Linked DNA regions of Homo sapiens. The protein of the gene in region 3 purifies or fractionates together with the protein of the main gene of each other region. This does not show direct contact. Each region holds a gene or a part of one and is shown on either strand. Other genes may lie near its edges. The genes, in order: CSNK1G2, UNC5B and LRRIQ1.

The links.
Region 1: the proteins of LRRIQ1 (region 3) and CSNK1G2 purify together in Homo sapiens (affinity purification with mass spectrometry; 2 studies listed by BioGRID and IntAct, with this or other methods). This does not show direct contact.
Region 2: the proteins of LRRIQ1 (region 3) and UNC5B purify together in Homo sapiens (affinity purification with mass spectrometry; 2 studies listed by BioGRID and IntAct, with this or other methods). This does not show direct contact.

Annotation. Positions count from the first base shown.
Region 1 is NC_000019.10:1,979,054-1,981,875, reverse strand, and holds the end of CSNK1G2 (casein kinase I), read right to left. Parts: coding exon 2,783-2,822; intron 2,714-2,782; coding exon 2,628-2,713; intron 2,558-2,627; coding exon 2,473-2,557; intron 2,382-2,472; coding exon 2,233-2,381; intron 2,125-2,232; coding exon 2,041-2,124; coding exon of another isoform or gene 1,966-2,040; coding exon 1,859-1,965; intron 1,728-1,858; coding exon 1,673-1,727; 3' UTR 538-1,672; downstream 1-537. UniProt on the Homo sapiens protein: Serine/threonine-protein kinase. Casein kinases are operationally defined by their preferential utilization of acidic proteins such as caseins as substrates. It can phosphorylate a large number of proteins. Participates in Wnt signaling.
Region 2 is NC_000010.11:71,295,931-71,299,585, reverse strand, and holds part of UNC5B (netrin receptor UNC5B isoform 1 precursor), read right to left. Parts: coding exon 3,626-3,655; intron 3,009-3,625; coding exon 2,844-3,008; intron 1,678-2,843; coding exon 1,496-1,677; intron 475-1,495; coding exon 309-474; 3' UTR 1-308. UniProt on the Homo sapiens protein: Receptor for netrin required for axon guidance. Mediates axon repulsion of neuronal growth cones in the developing nervous system upon ligand binding.
Region 3 is NC_000012.12:85,056,741-85,060,395, forward strand, and holds part of LRRIQ1 (leucine-rich repeat- and IQ domain-containing protein 1), read left to right. Parts: coding exon 1-444; intron 445-3,655.

The DNA.
Region 1 (2,822 bases), on a different chromosome or scaffold from region 3:
TGCTGCCGGGTATGGGGTGTTGTCTGGGGAGAAGGCACGGGGCGGAGCCGGGGCTAGTGCTGCCAAGGTCTTCACCTGCCTGCAGTTTCCGCTGTTCTTCTGGGAGCTACTGCTGATTCCCTTCACAGTGTCGTGGCCCCCGTGGAGATGTTTTCTGCCCTGCTGCGTGAACAGAGGGAGTCAAGGAGGCCTTCCGCCGTCAGAGCAGCCAGGACCATCCTGCCTGGGCCCCGTCGCTGAGGCTTTCAGGTATATTTGTGTAGTGTCGGGGAACGGGACCCCCGGGGCCAAGTCGCATGTGTGTGACTTCCCCTTTCCATGGTACGTGAACACTCGTCTCCTGCCCTCTCCCCAGACAGAGCCCAGCTCTGCCCTCTGCTTCCATCTTCCTTACCTTCCGCCTCATCAGTCGGTTTCTGTTACCGGAGGCCGCCAGCCGCTCCGGACTCGTCCCGGACAGGCAGGATGGGGATGGAAGCAACGCCCGTTCCAGGTCAAGCTTCGTGGAAAGCCCAGACAAATCCCTCTACACTTGGGTTTGGTTTCATTTTTCTTTTATTTTTTTAAAAAAGCCCCTAAATTCTATGGCTTCAAGGGAGCATCAGAGAAACGTAAATGCCATTTCTGTACACTTGGTAAAGCAAAAACTAGACTCACAGCCACCGCCCTGGGCACGGCCCCAAGCTGCTCCACTCTGCCCGGCAGCCTCCAGGGCACCCCACTGGGGAACCGCCCGCCAGTCCAGGGCCGCCCCCAGGCCCCTGCAATATACCTGCAGGGCTGGGCCGGGGGCTTTAAGGCGTTTTGTCTCCGGCTGCTTGCCGGGTGTCGGAGCAGAGAGGCAGGAAGCTCCGTGCCCACGCGCCCCACGCGGCAGGGCTGAGGGCCGAGCAGGGTGACACCAACCGGTCCTCCCACCTCGGGTTCCAGGCGCCGGGGCGCAGCCTCCGGGAGCAAGTGCGTCGAGAAGCACCCGCCTGGCAGCGCCCACCCGCCCCTTGCCAGGGCCAGGCTGGGAAGAGACTGCAGCAGCCGTGCCCGCGGCGCCCGAGCTTTGGTGCAGCATTTTGGTTGGGGAGCCGGCTTCAGCCACGGCCCCACCCCTGCCTTCCCCTTTGGTTTCGGGGAGGCCTGGGGCACGGCCTCACCCCTGGCAACAATGCCTGTCCCCCTCCCAGGAGGGCCTGGGCAAGACAGCTCCACAGCACCCCTCCAGGCCGGGCCTGCCCTCCCCTCGAGAAAACGGCCTTTGGATCGAGGGAGACAAGCTGGACTTTATGACGCTAACGGGGGCGGCTGGCGGGGCGGGGCCAGGCCGGGGGGCCTCCAGGATCACACTACTCACTTCAGCAAAGAAACGGAGGGGCAGGAGTGGGGTAGGGCGGGCCTCTGTTTTTTTTTTCCTCTTTTCCTTGTTTTAAATAGTTAATGCTCTTGGAGGGGAGGACTAGACACAGGTGTAGAAATTTCGGCCAAAGTCTTACATGAAGGAAGTGACCCCACGTCCCGGGGGTGGGGCCGCCTGAGCCAGGCGCGGCCCCTGCAGTCTGCGTTCTGGCTTCCAGCCAGGGTCTGGCCCTGGGCCGCTGTGGGTGGGCCCCGAGGGCCTCGCACAAGGTCGCGCCCCAAGGGGCTGCACGGAGAAGATTCAGGGGGCTGCACGCGCCCAGGGTCACTTGTGTCGCTGCAGCGATTTTCTCTTTCTCCTCTTGAAGAAACAGCAGCATCTGAGGAGGGCAGTGGCTCAGGTAGGAGGACCGGGGTGCAGGGCGGGGGCAGCCCAGGCCTCAGGCCCTCCCACCCCCATGGGGACCCAGGGCACCCCCACCTCCCCGAAGGCACCGCCCCAGAGCCTTACTTGGTTTCATCGGCCACCTCCACCTCTGCAGGCGCTGTGATCGGGGCGTTGGAGTGGCCGGCCGTGGGGTCGTCCGCATTCAGCTCCCCGTTGGTGGAGTTCAACGCCTGGTGGGGGCAGTAGGGGGTCACGCTGGCCGCCCATGCCCCTCCCTGGGGCGGTCGGTCCCGCCCGGGCCTCACCTGGTTTTTGCTGTGCGGCTGGGTTTTGTCCCGGAGCTGAGGCTGGGAGGGCAGGTCGGTGTGGACGGTGCCGATGGGGGTCGGCTGTGGGTGAGGGAGCAGGGGTCAGGATGGGCTGCAGCGCCGGTTCCCATCTCCCTCAGGGCAGTTTCCCGGTCCCCCGCTCCCACATACCGGCACCCCCCCACCTACCAGGGGCTTCCCGGCCCAGTCGTACTCATAGTCGAACACGAAGCCACTGCGGTCGAAGAGGTCGGTGAAGAGCTTCCGCAGGTAGTCATAGTCGGGCTTCTCGAAGAAGTCCAGGCGCCGCACATAGCGCAGGTACGTGGCCATCTCCTCTGCAGAGAGAGCGCCAGCGGGGCCTCGGCGGGGGTGGGGGTGGGGGGTGGGGGGTGGGGGGCACAGGGCGGGGGCGCAGGGACCCCTTACCTGGGAAGTTCTCGCAGAGCACCTCGATGGGCGTGGCGCGTTTGGTGTCCCCGATCTTCTGGTACCGCTCCTTGAGCGTGTCGGCCTGCGGGGGTCTGTGGTCAGCCTTGCTCCCGCCCTGCGTCCCCGCCCGCCTGCCCGGCCTCCTCGCCCACCTTGAGCCCCTGCCAGGGGAGGCTGCCGCGCAGGAAGTACATGAACATGTGGCCCAGCGCCTCCAGGTCGTCGCGGCGGCTCTGCTCTGCGGGGACAGGGGCGCAGCCTCAGCGGGGTCCGGGCGCCCGCCCCCCGCCGCGCGCGCGCAGCTCACCCTTGCCCAGGTGCGTGTTGATGCTCATGTAGCGCGCCGT
Region 2 (3,655 bases), on a different chromosome or scaffold from region 3:
CCTCCTGCCTGCCCGCCCCCAACCAACTGCCTCCAGAGGCTTCAGCCCCATCTTGGTTCCTGCACAGAGATCTCAGGCCAAGAGAGAGAGAGCGGGGGTGGAGAAGGAACTCTGGGCCCTCTAACAACAGAGTACATGGATTTTCTAAGGCTGGTCATGGTCTGGGGGTTGGGGAAGAGGAGGAGGAGAGGCAACTCTGGCTGTGAACTGGGAGGAAGCAGAGGCCAAACATCCCCATCAGGAGGCTGCCCCAGGCCTCCCTGCACCTGCCTCCTGCCAGTCCCTGCCAGCCCGCTGTCCCAGGAGGCTCAGCAGTCCCCGTCGGTGGCCACAGCCACCAGCATCTCACTCTTGCCCATCTCCTCCAAGGCACTCGCCAGGCTGTTGAGGTCCCCATCGTCCTGCTGCAGAGCTTCCCAGAGGTCCAGGATCACACCCGTGGGGCTCGCTTTGGTGGCAAAGTAATTCAGGTACCTGGCAGAGGGAAGGAGGGCACTGAGGTTCCCAAGCACTTAGCCCCTCCCCGGAGCCTGGAGGTGAAGGGGCACAAGGGGAAGTGGGAAGGCTGTGAGCTTTGGTGTCCCACTGTCCTGGGTCTGAATTGCAGCTACTGTGCTGCAGTCTGTGTGGCTCTCGGCAATTCAGAACCTATGGCTCAGAATCTCAGTCTCCTTGTCTCTAAAATGGGAACAATGCCAGTTACCGCTCAGCAAGATCCAAGATCATATAAAGTAAGGGTCTAGCGTTGTCTCTAGCATGTAACCATCTTGTTCATCATCATCATTATTATCATTGAAAGACACTGGCCCCAAGAGAGAATGACCACGTCTAGCATGTGGTCATTCCTCCCACCCGTGTTCCCTCCTGCTCCCATGAACTCCCCTGATAGGAGGAATAAAGCCTTAGCCATCTTTGTAAGTCCTATTCATTTCTAGTAAAATGTCTTATCTAAAGCATATTTTATTTATTTATTTTTTGAGACTCAATGCAGGTTTATTACACATCTTTCAATAAGTATAATATTTATTATCATTGGCCTTATATTTATCCAGCACTTATCCAGCATTTGAGGTTCTCCAAAGGAGTTTTGACACCAAAGTGTATCTTGGTCAGTCAGCAAGCATCTCGCAGCACATTCTCTGTCCTAGATACCAGGTGCTGACAATGATGGCACCAAGCTGATGCCCTGGCTTTGAGTCTCCTGCTGTTCGGTGAGATGGGCAGGTGGAGCATTATCCCCACACAATGGGAAAAGAGCAGGGTCTGAGAGTCTGCCTGGCTCAAGGACCAGTGCTCTGAGCATGATGCTCCTCAAGGGAGCAGTATTCTTGAACTTTGCATATCCAATCCTGAGTTGCTGATTTGCCACAAATGGTGGCAAAAGGGCAGCTGGTCTGGGAGATGGTCGTGGCTGTCAGGCTGCCTGCCCTGCCTGCCCCTGTGAGACCTTGAGGACGAAGGCAGATGGGGATGGGCTGTGGTTTGGGATACTCACCGGTCCATAGAGAGCTTCTGTGCTAACATCCGCCAGTCATTGCCCCGTGAGTTGGGGGCATCTAGGCTGTTGCATATCTTCTGGCGGATGGACAGTGGGATCTTGAAGGCATAAGGTCCCAGCTGGGTGGTGACAGTGCTGCCAGGGGCAGAGCAGAGAGTGTCCAGGGAGCCAGCAGGTGTCTGCAAGGGTGGGGGCCAAGAGTGAGAGGGGCACAGTGCTGGGCATCTGCCCTCCAGCCTCCCTCCCCTTGGACTGTGAGCTCATTGAGCCTTGAGTCACTCCCACCTCCTCTGGACAGACTCCCACTGTTCAGGCAGGGGCTTCTCCCTTGAAGGGTCGGTTCCCAAGGGCAAGGCCTGCATGGCCACCCTTCAGGCCTCAGGGGGTGCACCATGCTTACCTAAGGCCCCAGGCAAATGCAGATGCAGCCTCATGGTTAGGAAGCCCCAAGGAGGCCCAGCCACAGTCTAATCCACATGCACCCTCTTGTACAGGTGGAAAGTGAAGTCTAGAAAAGGGGAGTGGCTTGCTCATGGCCACATGCCAAGTTAGTGGCAGACCTGGGTCCAGACCTGTATCCAGTGCTCTTTACAATGCCCCAAGAGGAGGATCTAGTGTTGTCACCCTGGGTGGCCTGGGTTTTTAAATCTCAATCCGGATTTTTAACGGTTGAGAACCACAGGCCTGGTCCTTGCATCAACCTGGGTTCGAATCCAGTCTTGCCACTGGTGTACTGTGTGCAAATCCTTGCCCTTCCTAAAACCTACTTTCTCACCTCCCAGGTGGGGATGATATCTGTCATGCATCTCCCGGTGCTTGTGAGATCATGTAAGTTTTTTGGTATATGCCAAGCATGTGAATGGCACTCAATCAATAAATGACACTTGTTAGAAAAACATGACCAGATACCCGCTCAGACTTGGGAGGTGAGAGGGAACTACAGGGTTCTGTGTGCTGCAGCCCAGCCCCAAACCCTAGAGGTATCCTCTGGCCCTCACCTCCACCAGCGTGGTGTGCAGCTGGAATATCTGGCGGCCCTTCCCTCACCTATGCCACAGTGCTGTGCAGCCGGAATATCTGGCCGCCCTTCCCTCACCTCCACCAGAGTGGTGTGCAGCCGGAATATCTGGCCGCCCTTCCCTCACCTCCGCCAGCGTGGTGTGCAGCTGGAATATCTGCCCCACCCTTCCCTCACCTCCGCCAGCGTGGTGTGCAGCTGGAATATCTGCCCCACCCTTCCCTCACCTCCGCCAGCGTGGTGTGCAGCTGGAATATCTGCCCCACCCTTCCCTCACCTCCGCCAGTGTGGTGTGCAGCTGGAATATGTGGCCCCGACTTCCCTCACCTCTGCCAGAGTGGTATGCAGCTGGAATATCTGGCCCTCCCCTTCCACTTGCCGCACGCAGATCTTGCAGGTGAGCTCTGTGGAGGCCAAGCTGTGCCTCTCCAGGGTGAAAGTGCAGTGGAGGGCCTTCTGGCTGCCACTCCAAATGTGATAGAAGGGGATCTCCTGCAGGAGGAGGGGGTCAGGACCAGGCAGGCAAGGCCAGCCTGCCCTGTCCTCATAGAAATGGAGGCTCAGGGAGGGTTGGGAGCTTTGGGGGGCAGTTCAGGCCTCTCCACCCAGATAGGGAGGGGTCAAGTGCCCTAAGCTAGCCAGCTGAGTTGGTGTCAGGCCCTCAGTTCCAGAAGGGAGCTGAGGGTGGGTAGGTGGGGGAGGGAAAGGCACAGGTGTGTGTGTGTCAGGGGCTAGGGGGCCTTGTGGTCTCAGGCGCTGCTGGGTGGGCAGCGGGCTGTGGCTGTCAGAGATGAGATGGGCAGTCTGCCAGGAGGGCATGCCCTGAAGGGTGAGGAGCCTCTGTGAGGATGAAGGGCATAGTCGTCTGTGCGTGTGAGGGTGTGACAGGGCAGAAGTGTGCATGTGGCTGCCCATTGCCCTGAATTTGGGGACGTGCCTGGGGATGGCTGAAAGCCTAGAGACTGGGGTGGGAGGAGACAGAGACAGTGAGAGATCCAGGGAGGGGTAAGGCCACAGGACAGAGCTAGGAGGCAGGGCCCGGGAGGGAGCTGGGCTTCCCGGGCAGCCCTTAAGTGGTGCCCCTCCCCATCCATCAGCCCAGCCCTCACCTGGTATTTGGCCAGCAGCTTGCTCCTCCA
Region 3 (3,655 bases):
GCTTGGAATAGTGGCATTGTGATTTTTAACACAACTGATACCATGATAAATATAGAAGGCAAAAGAAATGACCAAGATTATGTGTTAGGTAGACATGCTCCTTGTGAGGGCTTGAGTAACTATAATGCAGAAAGCTCCATGGTATCTAAAGAAGTCAACTCTCTTAAATCTGAGATTAGAAATATTTCAGAAAAATGCCATGAAAATGCACCTGAACCTGATAGCATGACCTGCTGTGTATCAGAGTCAACCCTTCTATATTCTATTGAAGAAAGGAGACTAGCCTGGATAAAATCATTTAAACCTTGGCTTGAAATTTTCAAGCAAAATCAACAAAAGAAAATTGTTAGAAGAAAGAGACCTGTGAAATGCCCAGCCAACATGACACCCGCTTTGGATAAACTGGAAATTCTTCGATGTGGCCCTTGGGATACTTTACAGCAGGTATTTCTAATTTTATAATAATTTTTCACATTTAATTACAATTAGCTCTTTAAAGTATAACTTTTCAGATCTTAGAAAAAGAAATATTTTGTATACAAGAATTGTCTCTTGTTTAATAAAGTTATGAATGAAATATTACCCCATTTGGGAGGGGATATATCTCAACAAATTGTTCGAGGCATCTTCCCTAAGTGACACTCTATAAAAAGCTTTGATTTATATTTTTTAATATCTTGAAGCCTGTGTTCAAGGGCCCTCCAGTCATTATTTAAACCTCTAAGAATGGAAGCATATAGAAAGTTAGGGTTAGAATTATAGTAGGAAACTCCTAAGTAAACAGAAGTTTGCTTTAGACTTGAGCCACCACACCACCTAGTGGCTGCTTTTGGAATAAAGTGGATTTTATGTCCATGACCACTGTTGTGAAAGAAGGGCTTGCATGATAGAAGACCCTGAAGACCCTAGAATTCCCATCTAGCAACAATTATTTAGCGTGTGCTATTTAAAGGTGGTGCATATATGTCTGAAATGTAAAATAGTTGTCATCAAATGTTACTAATTTTATATGGTTATGGAGAACATAGTTTCAACCAAAATTAAGACACAGAAACTAATAAACGTATAGAAAAAGAGAAAATAATATTTTAAACAGTGTAACACTAGAAAGCACTTATGATTAAAATACATATATTTAGCTAAGGCCTGAAAGTCAAAAGTATTCAATAAAGTTTATTTAGTTTCTTGATAGACTTTCTTGCTAGACAGATGCCTAGGAGAAAGAACAATCATATTAATAGATAAACATTATTTTGTTTATTCACTCAGCAAATATTCATCTATCCAATAAGATGATCAATATTTATTGGTTGACTAATAAACAAAGAAAACCCAGTCTTTTACGGAGCTTAAACACACATAAATACGTTATTATGGATCTTGAGAATTGCTGTAAATAAGGCTTCAGAGTATCCTGTGAGAGAATAATAAAATAGTGGGATTTTGAAGATATTTCTGGTATATGAAATAGCAATATAAGAGATGAGAACTGGGACATACACTTTTAAGTGTCTTTTATTTCCTGGGTAATGTATTTGCCACATCTGTCAGGTCTGCAGAGCTACATATAGAATCTCTCATCTGCTCTTCTCCAATTTTTTCCTTGCGCATGTTATCTCTGGAATCATGTTTTAGCACTTTTCTTTCTCTAACATATTGCTGCAGGCCTTCCAATATGATAACATTAGCAATTATTTAGTTTTCCTCATGAGTATCTGTTAAAGCTAGGCAAGAGTGATGGCTTCATGCCTACAGTGTACTTGCTTCAAAAGTGAAAATGAAGTTACAGAAACAGTAGTGTTCCTCCCTTGCTTTGTAGGTCTCTGTTCTGTCCAATGAGAAGGAAGTTAAGATGTGTGAGCCTCTTTCTCCTTGGCATTTCTTCTCCAGCTGACTCTCTGTTCCTTCTTTCGAACGTTTGTCAATTTACATAAAATGATAATTAACTCTTTCTTTTACTTCTTAGAGCAAGGCCTGGCAAACTATTAAAATCTATAGAATACCTGAAGCTTTGTAGAAATGTGGATTCTGATTCAATAGGTCTGGTGATCCACCCATTCTCCATTCTTGCAATGATTCTAAATGATGATGTTGGTGCTGGTGAGTGGACTAATCTGAGTAGCAGTGTTCTAAAGGGCACCATAATCCTCTCATCCCTTCTTAAAGCAACTATCTCAAGCTTTTAATTTAGCTTTGAAGCATCAAATAGGCAGTATAAAGATGAAAAATACATGTGAATGTGCCATATAGATGCTAAAATGTTAAGAAAATATCATCTTTTGTTACCAGACAACTCCTGTAAAGATTCTGTTTGGTAGATGGCTTACCATGGTGTCTTTATTCACCACTGTTACTACTGATCCATGGCTCAGTTTCTTTTTGACTTTCTGATCTTTTAGCTTCAGATCTTTATCCTTATCCTGATCACTCACTGCCATCCTTGGGATGTCCTTCTGGAGATCAACTTAGAAAAGTTTATTGTCTCCCAGTAATGCATTCATTTTGCTTACATTAATCTCTTACTTTGAGACTTCAAGACATAAATCGGATCTTCGTGTTGTTCATACTTCTTTACACATTGCCAGGCAAATAAAGATACTCCTCAAGTTACAATGAAGTTACATCCAGATAAACCTACATAGCTTACAACTGGGCAAAATCATCTGGCAACGTGGTACACTGTAGAGTATTTGTTGTTTACCCTCATGATCATGTGACTGACTGGGAGATGCAGCTCCCTGCCGTTGCCTGACATTGTGAGAAATGATCATACTTTATATTGCTAGCTTGGGAAAAGATCAAAATTCAAAATTTGAAGTATGGTTTCAACTAAATGTCTATTGATCTCACACCATCATAAAATTTAAAAAAAATTCTACGCTAAACTATCTCTTGTCAGGAACTATCTGTAATGACTTTCATTACCTGATTATAGGATGGATGAGTGGGGGGATGAATCAATTGATGAATAAAGAATTCCAGTCGAAATATTTAATGTAGAGGACGGGTTGATGGGTGCAGCAAACCACCATGGCACGTGGCACGTGTATACCTATATAACAAAACCGCATGTTCTGCACATGTATCCCATGTATACATGTAACCTAAAGTATAATTAAAAAAAAGAACTGCAATTGAATGTTAATCTTATCTCCTCATTACTACCAGTTTCACAGTTTAGATAAAGTATATTGACTGAAGAGGAAATGAATGTAAAATTACTGAAGTGTAGCTTATTAGACTACTAAGTTCTATGTTAAGACTGTTTCTAATTTTATTTCTGCCACTTATGGCTGTGACACCTTATGCAAATGCTTGACCTGTATGAGCCTCAGTTTTGTCTTTCACAAACTGGAACAGCAATATCTATTATATAGGATCACTGAGTTTTAAAATGCTGTATGTAAAGAACATGGCCCAGGGCTTCTAATACCACTTGTCAAATGTGGGTCTCAAGCAAGCAAAGAGAAGGCAAATGGATTGTTTTCGAGGGCTGCTTAATAGCCCGTTTCATCAAAAAAGTTATAAAGTTGAAAATACTAGACCATTGGGTTATATGCAGTAATATCTCAAAAGAGAAGACTAAAGAGCAATAATTATGGGTAATGAATATATTTTTATTTTTTATTTTTAAATGTTTTAACTATTTTTTATT